Linked DNA regions of Homo sapiens. The protein of the gene in region 3 interacts with the protein of the main gene of each other region in a biochemical or structural test. Each region holds a gene or a part of one and is shown on either strand. Other genes may lie near its edges. The genes, in order: GOLPH3L, GOLPH3 and POMGNT1.

Evidence for each region.
Region 1: the proteins of POMGNT1 (region 3) and GOLPH3L form a complex in vitro, tested with the Homo sapiens proteins (one study listed by BioGRID).
Region 2: the proteins of POMGNT1 (region 3) and GOLPH3 form a complex in vitro, tested with the Homo sapiens proteins (one study listed by BioGRID).

The regions. Positions count from the first base shown.
Region 1 is NC_000001.11:150,645,730-150,652,265, forward strand, and holds the end of GOLPH3L (Golgi phosphoprotein 3-like), read right to left. Parts: intron 3,499-6,536; coding exon of another isoform or gene 3,452-3,498; exon of another isoform or gene 3,403-3,451; intron 3,020-3,402; coding exon 2,592-3,019; 3' UTR 501-2,591; downstream 1-500. UniProt on the Homo sapiens protein: Phosphatidylinositol-4-phosphate-binding protein that may antagonize the action of GOLPH3 which is required for the process of vesicle budding at the Golgi and anterograde transport to the plasma membrane.
Region 2 is NC_000005.10:32,143,290-32,150,400, forward strand, and holds part of GOLPH3 (Golgi phosphoprotein 3), read right to left. Parts: intron 592-7,111; coding exon 460-591; intron 1-459. UniProt on the Homo sapiens protein: Phosphatidylinositol-4-phosphate-binding protein that links Golgi membranes to the cytoskeleton and may participate in the tensile force required for vesicle budding from the Golgi.
Region 3 is NC_000001.11:46,188,349-46,195,459, forward strand, and holds the end of POMGNT1 (protein O-linked-mannose beta-1,2-N-acetylglucosaminyltransferase 1), read right to left. Parts: intron 6,614-7,111; coding exon 6,496-6,613; intron 6,304-6,495; coding exon 6,205-6,303; intron 6,054-6,204; coding exon 5,926-6,053; intron 5,578-5,925; coding exon 5,507-5,577; intron 5,292-5,506; coding exon 5,216-5,291; intron 5,041-5,215; coding exon 4,957-5,040; intron 4,868-4,956; coding exon 4,826-4,867; intron 4,611-4,825; coding exon 4,552-4,610; intron 4,243-4,551; coding exon 4,170-4,242; intron 4,089-4,169; coding exon 3,960-4,088; intron 3,876-3,959; coding exon 3,750-3,875; intron 2,437-3,749; coding exon 2,372-2,436; intron 2,170-2,371; coding exon 2,125-2,169; intron 1,642-2,124; coding exon 1,506-1,641; intron 1,220-1,505; coding exon 1,110-1,219; intron 1,010-1,109; coding exon 922-1,009; coding exon of another isoform or gene 894-921; 3' UTR 633-893; coding exon of another isoform or gene 371-632; 3' UTR 335-370; downstream 1-334. UniProt on the Homo sapiens protein: Participates in O-mannosyl glycosylation by catalyzing the addition of N-acetylglucosamine to O-linked mannose on glycoproteins.

The DNA.
Region 1 (6,536 bases), about 100 Mb from region 3:
AAGTATAAACAATCCTAATAAACAAATGTATTATTGTCCCTTGTGCTATAGATAAAGAAAGGGAGAACAATAAGCCAATTATAAGCACACTTACATTTTTACATGTTAACTCTGTTATAGTCAGGCATGTCACCTACATTTGGAACTTAAGATTTTCAACTCCTAAATTCAGGTGTCATTTGCAAGTAGATATTAGTAGAACAGATCATATTCATTCTCTTCATGGTAATAATGGTATAATTGGCTAATTTATTTTGATTGAGATGGAGACACTATTTAGGCTTTATAGTATTAGCTGGTGTTCATGTGGTCAGCTTTTGACATGTCCTGCCCCTCAGCCTATGTATGTTACAATTGTTTTTGTATCCCTCATTTTCTACATAGGATAAAACAAGCTGGTATGCTAGTGTAAAGGGGGAGGCATTAATAGCCTTGTGTAGAAAGTCCTTAGTTCCAATTAAAACAATTTAAATTATAAAATTGTGCACAGAGAGACCAGAGAGCTGATAATTGATCTTTATTATACAGAAATGTGAAGGCCATAAGCATTAAATGAGAAGGAGTTTGGCAGTGAACATTATGCAGATTCAAACTGAAGGTATCCTCGTCTTACTGAGATATAAAAATAAACACTAAGAGTTGCAAGAAAGAACTCAATTCAACTTCTATCTCCCAATCAAGCTATAACTTTCCACAGGAAAACCTGGTTTCAATTCATGCCGAATTGTTCAAAGAAAAGAAAAAGCTAAATCAGTTAGAGACAACACATGGACTGGCTTTTGTCCTATTAGAGAGCCAGACTGAAGCTGTATTCAGCCTCACATTTAGAGACTGTTTCCTATTACAATTTATATCTCTATTTGCCTAAGAGATACCTAAAGTGAAAAACAAAAAAATGTTAACTGAGCTGGGGCATTTTTGTGGGGCTAAGTAGATTTGGCAGAGGAGAGAAATGAATAAATAATTCATTTAATTATTTCTAATCAAGAGGATTTAATGTCAGGTCTGGGTCATCTGTATTAACCCTTTGACAGTTTGTTGTTCTATAATGGTCAAGAAGCACTATCCCATTAAAGTATAATAAATGCTGAACATCAGCACAGCTCAGTGCACATCCTCTTTATATCCTCAAATACTGGACTTTATATCAGCATGCTTTCAATACCAAATTAGCCCTTTAAATAGGATCTTTCTTAATAAAGCTTCTCATTGCCCTCACTACTGAAGTAAAAAACGTGTTAGAGATTTGGCCAGAAAGATGGTTTTACTGAAATAAGACTGATGACTAGGAGCACATCTATGGATTAAATATAGACAAAACTACTCCCAGAAACCTTAAATATAGACAGACTTTATTAATTTATGTAGGAAGCCAAAAATAGGAAATAAAAAGATCTGGAGTTCAGATATACTGATATATTCAGCAACTGAAACTTACAATTCCTTCAATTCAGTCAGAGCAGAGACATTTAAAGTAGTCTGGAGGGGTGGGTGCAGTGGCTCAAGCCAGTAATCTCAGCACTTTGGGAGGCTGAGGTGGAAGAATTGCTTGAGCCCAGGAATTCAAGACCAGCCTGGGCAACAAAGCGAGACTCTTGTCTAAAACAAACAAAAAAAAGCTGAGTATGGTGGCACGTGCCTGTAGTCCCACTTAGTTGGGAGACTGAGGCAGGAGGATCCTTGAGCCCTGGAGGTCAAGGCTGCAGTCAGCTGTGATTGCACTACTGTACTCCTGCCTGGGCAAGAGCAAGACCCTGTCTCAAAAGAAAAAAAAAAAAAAAGTGGCCTGGGGGAAACAGGACAGTCATATACCCCAAGAATGGAAATTTTCATGCCACCCCCCTTCCTTCCTTACAAATTCTAATGCTGATTGCATGAACGAGGTGTTGAGAGAGACTTTTCTTCATTTAGACATTTGCCCTAGTGAATGAGGGAGCAAGAGAATGCTAAGAGGGATGAGAGAATATATTTCTGGCTCTAGGACTTTGACATCCAGGTAATTGAATCTGGGACATTCTCATTAGGTTAGAAAAGGAAAGATGAGAAAATCACTAGCAGGATATGCAATTCCAGAGACCATCTGCTCCAAAAATTAGTTTTGTTTCTCATTGCTCCTTATTCAGCGACAGTTATTTCAATAAGCTACATTATTTAGCAGAGTCTGAGAGACAAAGGCTGTGAAAACATGTATTTATGATAGAAAACAAACTCAGAAAAATATAATAGATAGTTCACTTTTTATCTCATTCACATTCTATAGCTGGAGAACTCAAAATCCCATTTAGATATTTCTGCTTATCCAAAAGCACACTGGGTGAAACTAAACCACCAAATGGGAGAAAATGTTCATTGGGTGTGTGTGGCTTCACCCAGTTTATTTACCTATGGAGTGGAAGTGTAGGGAGAAATAAGGTCTGCTTATAATGGTCAAGGTCTATGGAGAAGCCCTGAAGTTGCTCTCCCCAAATCACAAGTCTGATTCAAGAAAAGGAAACAAAAATGATGAAAACATCTCATCACACAAAACTCAGTGATGGGGTCTCTGACAGTCACCAGCCAGCAGGGGAAAAGGAGAAATCCACCTGCCGGCTTTAAGATTTATTGAAGGCTGCCAGCACAGCCCAGATCATTTCTGTGGCACTAGGCTTTGTCCCTTCCACTTCAGGGTCCAGTTCTACTAAGTCCTTGGCTCGATTCATTGCCACATCATACTTGTCATCTGTCAGAGAGGAGAAGACATTCTCTAGCACATCAGAGGAGTGGGCTAGCACCAGGAGTGCTAGTGTTCGCTTGTCCATACGCTGAGGGTCATTTACCCACCGCTCTAGTACACTATCTTGAAGTTTTTTCACTAGTCGCTGTTTCTCTGTTGTATTGGTCACTGGATGAGTAGTCATGTCAAATAGCAGGAAATTCTGCTTCTCAGTGGTTAGAATACCTTTCTCTACTAGGTTCTTTGCGATGCGCTCTCGTACATTTCTCAGCTGGTACTGTAATTTGAAGGGGTTCCAGGTCTCACCTATGAGAAAAAAGAAATAGGACATAATGAACTGAAAGAGAAAAGCAAAATGAAACATGTAGTTGTTTGGAAACTTGAATGGCTAAAATGTTTAAAAGCATAATCTTCATTCCTCAATTCATTTAATCCTTAGTCCTTTATAATCTGGCTTTGACTCCAACCACATTTCACATTAAACCAGCTTCAAAAAATGTCACCAAGGACTTCCATATTGCTAGAGCTTATAGACTTTATTTCTGTTCTTATGTGACCTCTGTGACACTGTAATTATTTATGTATTTTTCAAATTCTATTTAGGACACCAGTCTCTCCCAGATGATTTCTACTCTATATTGTGGAAGTTCTATTTGCTGGTGAAGCTAAGAGGACTGAGGTTCCCTACCCTATTTGTAGAGCAGAAGCTCTATCCCAGGCCTGGTAGGCTGACAATATTTAGACTTCAATTGCTCCCATTCCAGCTTGTTCGTAGATTAGAGATTCTGCAACAGAAAAGGCAAGTCAAGAAGACCAGGGGCTAACACCTCTTTCCCCCAGCACCTACTCATACAGCAGGTGGGTATCACTGTAGGAGAAGTGGGCCCTTGTGCAGAAGTTCTGCCCAGGAGGGAAGGAAGGCCTGAAGAATGAAGAGCTCCAAAGCTCTGCCTGAGAGGACTGACTTTATTTGGAACACAGTGTGGAGAATTCTATGCCTAAGGGTGTTGAAAACCATAGAGATCTTGGTGGAGAGCAATTACAAGGTGCTGCTAGCTCTATGGCACTGGTATGACAAACCCAAATGGCAAAGCCTCCAGAAGTTTAACAGGCAGAACCAGAGAAACAGAAAGCCAAGAAAAGTCCTTCTGGAATCATGACCAACACTGGGGGTTGGGAAGACTGTGTGCTTGCACCAGGCTGCACCCACTCAGGAGCAATCAGAGCAGGACGTGGGGCTTGACTTGAGAGTATTCCCCAGACCACACATAGATCTATCAAAAAAGGGTGGATGCTTCACTGGCACCAAGGGCTAAAGCACAACCACTGAACCAACACTGGCTGAACAATAAGCTACCCTAACTCAGAGGCAACTCCTAGAAAGCTAAGCTTAAAAATAATAATAATAGCCGGGTGTGGTGGTACACGCCTGTAGTCCCAGCTACTTGGAGGCTTAGGCAGGAAAACCCAGGAGGCGGAGGTTTCAGTCAGCTGAGATTGTACCACTGCACTCCAGCCTGAGTGACAGAGTGAGACTTCATCTCAAGAAATGAAAAATAAAAAATAAAAATAAAATTAAAAAAATCACATACATCCCTGGTGTATGTCCAAGGATGTACTCTCTCCGAGAAGAAATCAGAGAGGGAACTTCCAAGCTGCTAGTTCCTCACTGAATGTGGGGCAAAATGTAAACTCCCTGATTTGTGATGGCTATGTCAAAATCACACACACATATCCAACAGTAAAGGATAAAAAAATTTAATTGGCTAAAAGGTCTTAAGCACAACCTTTGACTAATAAGTGGCTTCTACTGACCCACTGGCAACACACAGGGAGTTAGGCCAAAAGATAAAAACAAGAAAATATGAGCAGTGACATCAGAGGCTGCACACTACAAGAGAAACAGACTTCAGAGAGCTGCTGCAGGCAAGTCACTAAGGAAACAAATTACCAAGCAAACAACACAATCAACCTCTAGTGGGAAGGAGAAACCAGTATAGCAGGTGTCCCCAACCCCTGGACCATGGACTGGTACTGGTCTGCAGCCTGTTAGGAACCCGGCTGCACAGCAGGAGGTGAGCCATGGGTGAGTAAAGTTGAGCTCTGCCTCCCATCAGATCAGCAGTGGCATTAGGTTCCCACAGGAGTGTGAACCCTATTGTGAACTGCACATGGGAGGGATCTAGGTTGCATGTTCCTTGTGAGACTCTAATAAATGCAATGCACTTGAATCATACCGAAACCATCCCCCCGTCTCCCACCCCAGTGGAAAAACTGTCTTCCACGAAACCTGTCCTGGTGCCAGAAAAGTTGGGGACAGCTGCAGTGTAGTATCCAGAGTTGCACAATTATCTAAAATGTCCAGTTTTTGACAAAAAAGTATGAAGTATACAAAGAATAAATTGTGACCCATTGACCCATTCAGAAGAAAAAAAGCAGGCAATGGAAACTGCCTTTGAGAACGCTAAAATGTTGGACTTTACAAAGACTATAAAGCAGCTTTTATAAATATGTTCAAAGACCTAAGGGAAACCATGACTTATCATATAGAGAATATAAATAAAGACAGAAATTATAAAAAAGATCCATTTAGACCAGGTGCGGTGGCTCACGCCTGTAATCCCAGCATTTTGAGAGGCTGAGGTGGGTGGATCATTTGAGGCCAGGAGTTCAAGACAAGCCTGGCCAACATGGCGAAACGCCATCTCTACTAAAAATACAAAAATTAGCCAGGTATGGTGGGCACCTGTAATCCCAGCTGCTCAGGAGGCTGAGGCAGAGAATCGCTTGAACCTGGGAGGTGGAGGCTGCAATGAGCTGAGATAGTGCCACTGCACTCCAGCCTGGGCAACAAAGCAAGACTCCATCTCAAAAAAACAAAAACAAAAAAACCATTTAGAAATCCTAGAGTTTAAAAGTACAACAGACTGGGCATGGTGGCTCACGTCTGTAATCCCAGCACTTTGGGAGGCTGAGGCAGGCGGATTACTTGAAGCCAGGAGTTTGAGACCAGCCTGGCCAATATGGTGAAACCCTGTCTCTACTAAAAATACAAAATTAGCCGGGTATGGTGGTGTGTGCCTGTAGTTCCAGCTACTCAGGAGGCTGAGGCAGGAGAATCACTTGAACCCAGGAGGCGGAGGTTGCAATGAGCCAAGATCACACCATTACACTCCAGCCTCAGCGACAGAGCGAAACTCAAAAAAAAAAAAAAAAAAAAAAGTACAACAAACAAAATGAAAAAATCACTCAAGGGATCCAACAAGAGATCTGAGCTGGCAAAATAAAGAATTAGCAAACTTAGAGATCAAAGAAATTATGTAATATGAAGAACAAGGAGAAAAGAGAATGAAGAAAAATGAACAGACTCAGAGAAATATAAAGTATCATCAACTTGATGAACATACATAAAATGGAAGCACCAGAAGGAAAGGAGAGAAAGAGGCAGAAAAAATACTCAAGAAAGTAATGGCTAAAATCTTGCCAAACGTGATGAAAAACACTCAACCACACATTGGAGAAGTTCAACAAACTCCAAGTTGGATGAACACAAAGAGACCCATATCCAACATCATAGTAAAAATGTTGAAAACCAAAAATAAGTGGAAAATCATGAAAGCAGAAGAGAAAAATGACTTATCACATCACAGTGGAACTTTGTAAGCTTAATAACTGACTTCCCATTAGAAAAAATGCAGGCCAGAAGAATGAGTAGACTTATTCAAAGTGAGGGTAGAAACTATTAGCCAAGAATCTTATAACTGGCAAACTATCTTTCAGAAATAAAAGCAAAGCAGGTGTGGTGGCATGCACTTGTAGTCCC
Region 2 (7,111 bases), on a different chromosome or scaffold from region 3:
AGTACCCAGGGACACAAACACTGCGGAAGGCCGCAGGGTCCTCTGCCTAGGAAAACCAGAGACCTTTGTTCACTTGTTTATCTGCTGACCTTCCCTCCACTATTGTCCTGTGACCCTGCCAAATCCCCCTCTGCGAGAAACACCCAAGAATGATCAATAAAAAATAATAATAATAAAATAAAATTAAAAATAAATAAATAAATAAAAGCTGCAAATGAAGTCTAGAATCTTTCTGAATTTGTAAGATCCAGTGGCCGGTTACCTTAACAATCAATTACATTACTCATTGTAGGTGAAAGAACCAGGAAACCAAGAATGCAAAAAAGATATGGAAATACAATTGAAGAAAGACAACTTTAATATCAACTTCCACTTTAATTTTTGAAGGCTACTAGTAAAAACATACATTTTAAGCAGTACAACCTCTTTAAAAAGAATGTTACTCAGCACTCCTCTTACCTTTCTTGTTAATAGACTTTTACGTCTCATTCCACAAGCCTCTAGTTGTAACCTTCCTCTCAATGCTAATTCAATTAACATACAGCCACGTAATCCAGATGATATACAGTCATTCCAAAATGATGTGTAACCCTATTAAAAAAAGAAGAAGAAATAAAACAAAATAGCTAATTTACCTTGAATTCAGAGTAAAAAACAGAAATATTATCAGCCAAAGTCATATTTGGTGCCTTTTACCTTTCCTGTCTTTCTATAATAATATACTGAAAAAATACAATTAACATAAATTACTAATCGAGAATTTTCGGGGGCTTATCTTTCCACCACTTATTCTTACATACAAACAACAAATAACTTTAGAGGTCATAAGTTTAGAAACATAACTCACATTTCACCAAGCTGTGTGTTTATTAGGTTCTTTCAGAACCCTGCAAACTCCAAGGAATACTCAGTTAACCCCAGATTATAGTGATTTATTTATGTGGACAAGTTAAGAAGCTCAGGCAAAGACAACCTAGCCAAGTTAGCTTCACAGAGAATTAGAATACCATTCATTTATTGCTGTTTAGGATAAAACCACAAGGTTAATCCGAGCACTTTGGGAGGCTGAGCCAAGACGATGGCTTGAGCCCAGGAGTTTGAGACCAGACTGGACAACATAGTGAGATCCTGTTTCTACCAAAAAAAATTAATTAGCTAGGTGTGGTGCTGCACACCTGTAGTCGCAGCTACCCAGGAAGCTAAGGCAGGAGGACCACTGTGTCCAAGAGTTCAAGGCTACAGTGAGCAATAATTACACCAACACACTGCAGCCTGGGCAAAACAGTGCGACATTGTCTCTTAAATACACACACTGTTAATTTTGTAAGAAGATATTAGAAAAACACACATGCGCCCACAAACAAATGGATGGCTATAGGCCTAAAATTCTCAATAATAAACAGTATAACAATCAGATTGGCCCCAAGAGAGAATGTAAGGGCAGCATCCACAGTGGAAGAACGGCCAGACATAAGGAGGTTGATAGACATCTAGAGATCTGGGATACTGGTCAAGCAGGCATCACCAGATGAGGTCAGGACACTTTAACAGCAAACAACTGGGGTTGTTCAAATTATAAAGCCACAAATCTTGCCAGCAGGATTGCCAGCTATCAATTTAAGATACCCAGTTCTCATGAGACAGCAGAAGCTATAAATAACTCTCATTAAGGCTCAGAACAGGGTAACACAATTTTGGTAGGAGAACAGGCCAACTGAATCTCTAAAGAATGGAGGGCCCAGGATTAGGAAGGCCTGGCCCTCACCTCTGGCACTTTTCCAAGGTCAATCCTGGCACTTTGTCAGGCCAGAGTAGTGAGCTTGTGTTTCAGAAGATGACTGACCATTGAGGTCCATCAAACTTCATTTTTGATACAAGGAGTTAAATTCGCCTCACCAAGCTACCACTTCTGAGAATGTGACCTTTGGGAAAATAACAATTTAAAGGAGGCACAAGCGGATAAACAAAAACATCAGTGTTAAGAGATCAATTTAAATGTGAGGTGTAAGTAGCAGACACTGACTGGATTTTAGGGAGTCACTTTAAACTTAGGGTCGGGGCCTGATCAAATGAAGATTACCAGAGATTTAGCAAAGTGGCTAATAATACCAGTACTTTATAGAGGTTAGGTAAAATGCGTGGCTTCTGTGTCCATGAAATTAAAGCCCTAGGAAGCCTGAGAATGAATTCCACATGAAATTAAAGTTACAGATATCTGGCTTTGACTGGCCTGGACATATAGACAGAGTTCCTAAATGAGCCTCTACAAACTGTAAACAACAGAGAACACCTCATAAAGCAATAATGGACGTGAACAGCCCTACAGCCTGCAAACTCCAGCTGAACAGTACCTGGAGGCTTACATTTGACAGCAGAGAACTAAAATATGTCTCAATCTCAATTGCTCCTAGAGTAATGGCATACCCAGAGATATTAGCAAAATGGGGTCTTTAGTAACAGACTTCAGAGATCTAAATTTAGTGAATGGCTTTAGGCATCATCGCTGAAAGACACATGCTTAAACAGAATTGGATTCACATGGGAAAGTAGATGAATGGGAACGGACAGTTCTGTACCACAGCTTCTGGGACTCGTCAGCAATATTCCAAAGATAAATGAAGCCAACAAAGACACACCAAACAACAGAAAAGTACAGTATGTTGATACCCTCCTGCTAAAATCCATGTCATAAAAGCAGGATCAAAAATTAACCATAGGGTGGCCAGGCGCAGTGACATACACCTGTAATCCCAGCACTTCGGGAGGCAGAGGCAAGCAGATTGCTTGAGCCCAGGAATTCCAGACCCCTGGGCAACATGGTGAAACCCCATCTCTACAAAAAATACAAAAATTAGCCGGGCATGGTGGCACCCGTCTGTGGTCCCAGCTACTTGGAAGGCTGAGGTGGGAGAATCACCTGAGCTCAGGAACTTGAGGCTGCAGTGAGCCATGATCATGCCACTGCACTCCAGCCTGGATGACAGGAGTAAGACCCTATCTCAAAAAAAAAAAAAAGATAAAATATGTGGGGAAGGTTAGTAACTGGCAGCATCAAGCAGCTTATGACTGTAGTCATAATTAGTTCCTATGTTCTAAAATATAAGGATGGGAGAGGACAGAGACACCCCAAGTAGGCTGGGCCATACACTACCAGACCTCCATCTGCCTGATTCCCTTTATTCTTTCAAGTGGCTCAATTTGAATGGTAGAAAAGGGTATTGTTTATTAAGTCCCCTAAAACTGCCAACACTGAGAAGAGTTCTCACCATTCCAGTTAAGAGCTACTGTTCTGCTCTCAACTGCCTACTTACCCAGAAGCTTTTTGTTAAGAAGGAACTCAAAAGGTTGGTAACCCAAAATGAAATGTAATAAAAATATTTTGTATAAAGATCATAACAGGGATATAACCGGAAGTATAAGATTTTCCTTATATGTTATTAAAAACATTTACAACATGGGAAAATGCTCATAATATATATTCTACATGAGAAACAGATAAAAAATTATATTATCTAAAGCAGAGTGTCCAATCTTTTGGCTTCCCTGGGCCATACTGGAAGAATTATTATCTTGGCCCACACATAAAATATACTAACACTAATGACAGCTGATGAGCTAAAGAAAACAAAAAAAAAAACCTCATGTTTTAACAAAGTTTACAAATTTGTGCTGGACCAGATTCAAAGCCGTAGGCCACCTGCGGCCCACAGGCCACGGGTTGGACAAGCTTGATCTAAAGTGTAATCTTATTTTGAAGTTACATAAATATTAATACGTATGTATATCATAGGTTTGTATTTACAAAAAAACTTATAAATGTTCACATCCTTTGACACAATTCTTATGGGCCTTTAGTTAGAAAATACTGTGCACAAAAATATATGTACAAATATATTGATCACATCATTATCATAGTAAAACACAAAAACAATCTAAAAGCAAAAAAAAGGGAATAAACTCAGCACTTCCCAAACTTTCCTGACCTTGAAGCATTTTAATTTACAGTATACTTTTAACAGCCTACAGAATATTACAATTCTATGAAAATCAGTTTTAAAAATCCTGGTGCAGGAGGCGGAGGCTGCAGTGAGCCGAGATTGCACCACTGCACTCTAGCCTGGTGACAGAGCAAGACTTCATCTCAAACAAAAAAAAAAAGAAAAGAAATCCTGGTGCAGAGGTTATTACAAAACATGAAAAATTATTATGAAATCGTGTGTGTGTGTGTAGAGAGACAGAAAATAGTCCCATTTTTTAGGGAGATTAGAAGAAAAGTTTTAGCAGCAGTAATGTCTGGTGATTATGGTGATCTTTATTTTCTTTAGGCTTTTCTGTATATAGTAAAGGAAAACTCGTGGCAAGGAGATAAGTAAGGTTTTCCTTACTGATCAACTATAGTTATAGTTGTTCAAGCTTAAAAGGCAATAGTTATGATAGTGGCAGTAATTTGACAGAGGCAAAACACTAGAAGAACTAAAAACTCTCCATGAAAATAACTATGAACCACAAAGTAAAACATATTTGTGAAGTAGTAAAGAACTGTGCTCAAGAGCCCAGACCGCACAAACACCTGGCGATTCAAATCAACTCCAGCTCTACCACATACTATATAGTTAAATTTCTGAGACTAGTTTTCTTCATATAAAACAAGTTGTGAAGATTAAATAATATATATAAAGCACAACCCCTGGCAATTAGTAATTACTTAATTATGTACAATTAGAATGGAATGGGGATGGAGGACTGCAAACTCAGTTACTTAGAAAGTACAAAGAACATGACTGAATAAAGAGACCCAGGTGTGGATTGCAGCAAGCTGGACAATGTCCTCTTCCATCTATCTGGGGAAGACAGCTTAGCCCTTATCAACTGTTGCCATGTAAAATGTGGGCCTGCTCTTGCCACATCTTTTTCAAGAGGGCAGAAACGTCCGTTTCTATATATTACTTCCATCTTTGAAAGGATTACAACTCAAGTTTTACTAAACAAAACATATCTGGCAAACCAGTTTGCAACCGCTAAACATTTTACAAAACATACTACGTTATATGAATGTTCAGTTACTAGTAGTCTGTATAGGCATAAAGTACTCAAAATAGTTTCATTTTGTTTTTATGTACAAAATATTTCAAAATGAAATCACTAAAAACACTATATTTTCTATATAAGGTTGAATTCTGGTGTGACCAATGTTTTGGAAATGGCTTTCTAATAGAAATATAGGCCAGGTCCACATGGTGGCTCACGCCTGTAATCCCAGCACTTTGGGAGGCCAAGGTGGGCAGATCACGATGTCAGGAGATCGAGACCATCCTGGCTAACACGGTGAAACCCCATCTCTACTAAAAATATAAAAAATTAGCTGGGCGTGGTGGTGGGCACCTGTAGTCCCAGCTACTCGGGAGGCTGAGGCAGGAGAATAACGTGACCCCAGGAGGCGGAGCTTGCAGTGAGGCGAGATCGCGCCAATGCACTCCAGCCTGGGCAAGAGAGCAAGACTCTGTCTCAAAAAAAATAAAAAATACAAAATACAAAATTACCCAGGCGTGGTGGCGCATGCCTGTAATCCCAGCTACTCAGGAGGTTGAGGCAGGAGAACTGCTTGAACCTGGGAGGCAGAGGTTGCAGTAAGCTGAGATCGCACCACTGCACCCCAGCCTGGGCAACAAGAGCGAAACTCCATCTCAAAAAAAAAGAAAAAAAGAAAGGTGATTGTACTTGCCAAATCTAAATGGACCAGGATGAACAAATTAAGTCTCCCTCCTGAGTATCTGAACTTGCCATACTGAATCAGTTATATGGGCATGGCACTGGAGCTGTACTGGCTGTGTGGATTCAGAAGCTACTGGCCATTGGGTACAAATGCAGAGAATGAAGGTAACAGAAAGGAAAACAGAAGACAAATGCAGAGTAGAAATGAGAGAGGATGCAATGTGAGGCAAACCAAGACATACAGAGACAGAGAGGCAGACAGGCACATACACGGAATAGCATGTTTGTTGTTTTAACCTGCTATGTTTTGTTATGCAGTAAGATAATTAATACAGTGGGTGCCCAGGGCTGGCAAAATGGGAAAAGGGAGAGGTAATGGCTAAAGGGGATGAGCTTTCTTTTGGAAGTGATAAAAATATTCTAAAATTGATTATGGTGGTGGTTGTACAAATCTGAAAACCTTGAATTGTACACTTCAAATGACAATTATATGGCATATGAATCATATCTCAGAGCTGTTACAAAAAAACATTCTATAAAGTCACTTCTGAAATCTTACATGAAATTTTGATTATGTCAAAAATTAAGAATCAAAAAGTTCTTGACAAAAATAACTAATCAAGAGAATGAAGGTGACTTCAGGTAAAAGCAGATTAAAAAGACTAGACAAGAAAAGGTATCTACAGATATAAGAACTGTTAAAGAAGTAGTAAGGCTGGGCACTGTGGCTCACGCCTGTAATCTCAGCACTTTAAGAGGCCGAGGCGGGCAGATCACCTGAGGTCACGAGTTCAAGACCAGCCTGGCCAAGGCGGCAAAACCCCATCTCTACTAAAAATACAAAAATTAGCCAGGTGTGGTGGCTCATGCCTGTAATAGCAGCTACTCGGGAGGCTGAGGCAGGAGAATCGCTAGATCCTGGGAGGCAGAGGCTGCAGTGAGCCACTGCACTTCAGCCTGGGCAAAAGAGTGAAACTGTCTCAAGAAAAAAAAAAAAAGTAGTAAAACTGCATTTGCTGGTGATATTGTTGGATATTTAGAAAAACTCATAAGAGTAAATGGAAAAATTACTATAGATAGGAGTTTAGTAAAGTAGCCAGATTATATAAAATTAAACACCAGTTGTCATATACAAACAAAATACACATGTTAAAATACTAAAAAGTTAAAATATAATTGAAAAGACCTTTACAACAGCAACAAAAAGAACAAAAAATACCATGGCAAAACCTATATGAAAAGTTTAAAGTCTCTTGAAAGACTTAAAAATAGACTTGAATAATAGAAAGATATTTCATTCTTATATACAAAGTCTCAGCATTATTATTAGTTCTTCCTAAGTTAATAAATGTAATATCCCAATAAAAATAGCAACAGATTTTCCCTGGAGCTATACAAG
Region 3 (7,111 bases):
CCTTTTTGTTCTCTCCTGCTCTGTCTCTGGGGACAGGTGCCCGGCCCAGGCAAGATAAGCAGGAACCCGGCTGGTGGTTAAACGGTGGGGAAGAGGTAGGGTGGCTGCTCCAAGCCTCAAGTAGGGCGGGGCTAAAGTCAAGCTGTCCTAGGGTAGAGTTGGGGAAAAACCTTGGAGTTTGAGACTCAGGCATCCCCTGGTGGCCAAATGGCCCCAAATGGAAGATAAACTCTGTGGAGGACAGTAAGGAAAACTCACCATCCAACACAAGTATTCTCTCCACCACTTCCCTCCAGCACCCCCCTGACACACAAAATCACAATCACAAGACATCCCCAGAGGGCTTCTCCTTTTTTAATCAATGACCAACTTATCCAGCTTTGGAAATCTGGACAAAGAGAAGGCTGAGAGGAGGCCTGGTCCAGTGTCTAAGGGTCTCTGAGTGAGTCTGTGTCAGCATGTGGGCCCCAGCTGGGCCTGTCCATGGGTTGGGCACAGCAGTTTCCTGAGTAAGAGCCAGCCCCACCCTCAGGGCAGCATTCCAGCCCAAAAAGAAATCCAGGCCCTCCAGGTTCGGCCTGTTTTCAAGGCCCTCAGGACAGTCAATAAATAGGTTAGATTCTGAGCCAGGCCTGGAAAGTGAGGGTATTCAAAGGGCAGGATGAGCTGCTAGGGATCGTAATGATTCCCAGGTACTCTCCTGCCCTTCTCCAACAAGGAAGTAAATAAATAGACTTTTAACTCAGGAACGGGGTGTTGGAGCAGGGGAACCCTCCCCTTGGAGTTAGTAATTAAGTCTCATGTTAAAAACAAGGTAGCCCCAGCCCCTACCAGCATCTACAAAATCCTACAGGATGGAGGGAAGGGCTAGCCAGCCTGGGGGTACACAGTACCCAGCCCCGCAGGGTCCTGGAGGAGGTCTCATGTCTGTTCTGGGGCTCCTGGGGCTCCCTCCTCCTTTGGGGGTGGCTCCAGGAAAATTGGGGTGACTGAGGGTGGCTTCTTCACTCTGGGAAAATAATACAAGAATGTATAGAGAAGAAGCCATTAGCTATATCCCTGGATCTCACTAGGCCTCCTGTTTCCCAGGGCAGAAAAGGGTCACTCACGAGTAGGGGGAAGCCGGGACCCCCACCATCAGGAAGTGGTTCTTCTTCCGAAACAATCTCCACAGGCCCCGATGGTTGCCACGCACATCCAGGTCCCAGATATGGAGGCACTAGTGAGGGTGGGATGGAGACAGAGACATGGGTCAGAGAGCTGTAGGGAGGGGTCACTGACGACCCTTTGGCCCAGCCCCCACCCCTCCTCAGAAACCACCTCAATTTGTAAGAGATAGCATCTTTTAGAATATGAATTTGGACAAGGAGGTTGGAAGAGGTGTTCTAAGAGTATAAAGAGGAGGTTCTGAGGTTGAAGATTCCAGAGCAAAGGCTCCCTGGATCTTGGGGCAGTATGTGTGTGAGGGGGAGGGGTTCTCCAGGGTGGGCATGGTATTGGAGCACCTTGGCAAGCTGGGTCCAGGTGGTGAAGTCATCATCTTTCTCCATTCGAATAAAGGCCACGTAGGTGTGGCCCTCTGTGTCTGGCAGGAAAGAGTCTTCACAAGGGTTCTTGCTGTGGTCCAGAACCTCAGCCTCACTGCAGTAGAGGGTGGGAGAATATAGCCAAGACAGGGCCCACTTCATGGGTGTGTCCCACAGGACCCTGTACTTGGTTGAATGCTCTGCTGTTGCCACCTTGAAGTTCTTTTTTTTTTTTTTTTTTTGAGATGGAGTCTTGCTCTGTCGCCCAGGCTGGAGTCTCCTGCCTCAGCCTCCCAAGTAGCTGGGACTACAGGCGCCTGCCACCACGCCCGGCTAATTTTTTGTATTTTTAGTAGAGACAGGGTTTCACCGTGTTAGCCAGGATGGTCTCGATCTCCTGACCTCATGATCCACCCACCTCGGCCTCCCAAAGTGCTGGGATTACAGGCGTGAGCCACCGCGCCCGGCCTGAAGTTCCTAATGTTTGAGATGAGGGCCCTGATTTTCATTTTGCACAGGACCCTGTAAATTATGGGGCCAAGATCCCCAGTATTTGACTCTTTGCTCCCTGCTACACCCCAATTGTCCTAGGCCATACCTGAGCAGCCTGTGAACTTCCACTTCATAAGCTTCTTTCTTCAGACTGAAGAGGAGGGAGAAATGGGTCAGGGGAGTGGGCAGGCCCTCAGGTCCCATGGGTAGCACTGAGCAGGGCAAGGGGTCACATGGGAATCTGTAGCCGCAGGGCTGGAGTAAACACACAGGCCCAGCATTGGAAGGGACTTTCAGGGACTGGCCTCCAAATCTCCTAGATATCCACCCCTTGCCCTGCTGCCAGCCCCAACCTGTCCACATTCCTGAGCTGGACACCTGGAACCGTGTTGAACTTGTGCTTCTTGAAGTAGGCCTCCTGGAGTGGGTATGAGAGTGAAAATCAGCACCTCACATTGTCTGGCCCACACCCACTTGCTGACCAGCCAGACATCTATAAGACACACAAATGAAGTCCTAGACCTGTAAAGAGCCCTCTAATTTCCCACCGTCTTCTCCATCCTCTTTGCAGCATCCTCAGCAAGCTCTTACTAGCTTTAATTTGGCCTCCACCATTGCTGGAGAGCTCATGCTGTCACGGCAGCTCACACTACTGCACCACAGACCCATGAACTAGCAGTCCCTGCCTCTTGTAGTTCTCCCTGGGCCTGCTGTTCTAGAGCCACAGATGTCAGAAACAGGCCCTGCAGGAGGTGGTGGGCAAAGGGACGGGCTGGGCTGGGAAGGAAAAAACTACTTTGACTCTGGTACTGAGAGTGACCTGAGGGAAGCGCCTGCCCCTCTCTGGGAGAGGAATGGGGCTCGCGTATTAGTCAGCCTCTGAGGGACCTCTGGCTTCTAGGAGGTTCCAAGCTGGACGCTATTCATTCCTTTGGGCTGGGCTGGCTCAAGGCCTCCCTTGCTGTAACTGGGGAATGGTCCTCTGAATGCAGCCAGGTGGGTTGGCGGTACCTAAGGACTTCCCTGTTCTCCTCAGGCTGAAGCATAGGCTCCAGCACTTGCCAAAACAGGAAAGGGCAGAGATTGCAGGGCTGGACCAGTACTTAGAGGCAGAAATACTCTCCCCAGACACCCACAGTCTAGTGCTAAAAATAGTAAAAATAAAAACAATACCAGCTGACCCTTATATATGTTTATAATTCAAAGCACTTTACATATATTGACTCATTTAAACCTCAAAATATCGTAACCCAGTGAGGTAGTAGTATTTTATCCTCTTTTTTTTTGAGATGGAGTCTCGCTCTGTCACCTAGGCTGGAGTGCAGTGGCGTGATCTTGGCTCACAGCAAGCTTCGCCTCCTGGGTTCACGCCATTCTCCTGCCTCAGCCTCCCAAGTAGCTGGGACTACAGGCGCCCATCACCAGGCCCGGCTAATTTTTTGTATTTTTAGTAGAGATGGGGTTTCACCATGTTAGCCAGGATGGTCTCGATCTCCTGACCTTGTGATCCACCCGCATCGGCCTCCCAAAGTGCTGGGATTACAGGCGTGAGCCACCGCGCCCAGCCCTTTATCCTCATTTTTCAGATAAAGAAACTGAGGCAAAAATAGGATAGCTCTTTCCCCAAGGTTACATGGCTAGCAAGTAGCAGAGCTAAGATTGCTTCAGAGTCCATGTTCTTGTTCTTGACTGTCATGCCACACTGTGCCCTGCTCCCTGCCTCCCACTCACGTGAAAGTAGCCATTCATGTTGAGGCCGACGATGCCAAAGTGGTAGGATCGGGAAACGTCAGGGATGATGCACTCTCGGCCCCGGCGTTGTTCAGGCATCCGCATCCACATGTCCCAATCCCAGAGCTGGCAGACATGGACCACGATGAAGGTTAAGATGTTTCGAGTTGGTAGGGGACTCCAGCCCCCTCACCCTACCCTGACAGTTACCTTTTCCGGTGTAGGCCACTTGGGCTCAAGCTCCTCCTTGTACAAGGACCTCCTGAGCACCCAGCCCAGCCCAGGCATGGTCTCCACACGGTACAGTAGTGCTGGGTCCTCAGCCGTGTGTTCATACCCCTGGGGACAGGGTGCCATAGTGGGAGGTATTAGCTGAGGCCTCATAAACTCGCCTGCTAAACCCTGGTCATTCCAGCCTACCTGGTCATTCCAGGCAGAGATGCAGTACAGGCTGTCATCCTCCTCCAGTAGGTGGATGGATTGGCTCAGGAAACTGAGAGAGGCAGGGTCAAAGAGTTCAGGGAGGGACAAGGATAAATCTAGTCACACAGAGATGCTAGAATTGCTGGAGCTGGGTCTCAGGAGCACCTCCTTCCTGGAGTACCTCCTTCCCCCAAATCCCCACTGTCTCCATTCATCCACTGTACCTTCAACAGCAGCCCCAACACCTGCCATCCTACCTTTGCCCAGGCTTCGCCCCCACTTGTGAGCTCATGTCCTCCAGAAAGCTCTCTAGGACACCTCACTGACTCTTTCCCTGCAGACTGAGGGACCTCAACTGAAACCTAGAGACTCCCCTCACCTGAAAAAATCCACAGCAATGTCCAGGTCCTCTTCCAGAACCACAGCAAACTTGGCCTCCTAGAAGGGGAATGGGACATCATGGTCCCAAAGGGGTCTCTCCATCCTGTGATCTCCTTTGCCCCCAACCCTCTTCTTGCAGGCAGCATTACCCCCATTTTCCAGATGTGAAGGATGAGGCCCAGTGAGGGGAAGAGCTTGCCACGTAACAGGCCCAGACCTTATGCCCATGTTTCCCCCCTCCCAGGCCCAAGAGTTGTATCCTTAGTACTCACCGGAAACAGGTTGAAAGTGGCAGTGAGGCTGGCCTTGTAGTGCTGGGAGTGGGGTGGGAATAGGGCACATGAGCTTTAGGGTAGAAGGCAGAGCCAGGTGTCTGCCCCATCCCCACTTGCCTATGCAGTACCTGAGACACGCGGGCATTCTTGATGCTGATGGGAGTATGCTGGATGCCCCTCAGACCAAACAGTGCCACCACATCCATGGGTTCCTGGGGGACATGGCCACTGCTCACCATGTGAGGTCACTTTCCCTCTGCCCACCTCTGCAATCCAAGGCCTTCACATTTCACAGCCCTTGCCTGGGCGGTCTCCCTTGCCCGTCCCTGGCAATCACTGCTGCTCCATGTTGTACTCCACCCGAGGCACCCCCCAAGTCCTGCTCACCTCATAGTAGCCGTCAATGAAAACTGTTATCATCTGAGGAGACACCCCCTGGGCTGAAAGCAGAGAGCGCAGCATCCTGGGGAGCCCAGGGATAGGTTAGGGTCACTTCATCACCCCTCAACTCAGGTTCCCCTGTGTTTACAGCTGGGCCCAGAGTCCCTATGCTTACCCACAGAGGTGAATGCGTCTAGAATCTATTGCCTTTCTGCCCACCTCAAGAGTTCCTCCTGGAGGTAGATGACCTAAGCACCCTCCTGTTCAGTGCTGGGTATAGCCCATTCCCAGGCTTACCTGTACAGGTAATTGGGTCGGTTCCCTGCAATGACAGCCACAGGCACATTGAGGACCTTGTTGTCTGGGAGCTGTGGGAGAAATAGCGTTTAGCTCTTGCCTTATTCCCCCTTCAAACTGGGATCCCCACCTAGGGAAGACTTCTCAGGTGAGGGTAGGTGCAGACTGGAGTAGACAGGGAAGGGATAGAGGATCTTCCCTGTTCTGGGCTCTCCACACACTCAGCCCAACTCTAGCGCTGAGCTTTACTCACATGGCCTGCCCCTTCACCCCAGCCCTGTCTTTCAGAGCGCAGTGTAAATCCTGCCCCTGGTTCTCTCCCAGGCTCAGGTAGGGAAAGCCCAACCTAGATCATTCCTGGGGCCCCCCTGCTGAGCTGGGAAGGAGTCCAAACCTCACTGTCTTAAGGCCCCACTCACTGGGTCAGGGCTGAACTCGATGGGTGTGGGGTCCTTGCAGCTGCATACACTTCCATAGCCCTCAACTTTGCTGCAGAAGCGCCGGCGGCGACGGTTCAGCTCTGTGTCTGCCCAGTGGCACTCTGCCTCTGAGGGAAGGATGCGGTTGTCATGGAGGCATGGGGCCAGCAAGGTTTGAAGAGCCCCAGGCACACAATCAAAGGAATAAAGCTCCACAGAGAGATCTAAATGCCCACCCCCAGCCCAGGCCCTGCCCCATCCATGCTCCACTAACTCCACCTTCTGCTGAGCTCAATGGCACATCTGTCTTCAGCAGGACTGGGTCCCCCCAGGAAGAGAGGGCAGGTGATTTAGAATGTTTCTCCCCGAAGACAGGACCTGGCAGGAGGCAGGAATGAGGGCCATGGGGGCCCAGACACCAGTTTGGGGGCTTTTTCCCATCTCCCTGCCTACTTTCATCCAACCCACTGCCACTGGCTCCTATTTGTTCCCCACCCCACCCCATCTCCTAGGGTTCTGCTCCTCCCAGGCTCTTGATACTACAGAGTGGATGGCCTCTGATGCCGGCACCTCCTTTTCGTCCCACGAAGGCCCATGTGTCCCTCCAGCCCAGGGCAGGGCCAGCCTGGCTGCCCAGGCTCCTCAGCAGAGCCTTGGCTGTGTCCTTGAGGTGGAAGGAGCCCTCATCCTGGGGGACCAGAGAAGGCAGTTAGCCTGACTGGCATGGTTCCAGGAGACCTGGCCTCACAGAGCACGAACTATGTAGCAACCTTTTACTTAAAATAGCTCATTACATTATTGCAATAACCCTCTATGGTTACTCTCTTTCACAGATAAAATAATAACTGAAGGCTTAGAGATTCTAAGGTCATCCAGCTAATAAGTCCTTTCCACAAACCCACACGATCTGCACCTCTCTCTCCCGCCACTCTCTGCCTTCTTTTCCAACCACTCTCCTACTCTCCTCCCTTATTCTGCTCCACCTCGACTAGCATCTTTGCTGTTCCTCAAATATGCCGTGTACCTTCCCACTATAGGGGCTTTGCACTTGCCATTCTTTCCACCTGGAATGCTCTTCCTCCAGATACTCACCTGGCTCACTCCTCAATTCCTCAGCTTTCTGCTCACATATCATCTCCTTGCAGGGGCCTTCTCTTTCTAAAATGTCCCCTCCCCTCTATCATTC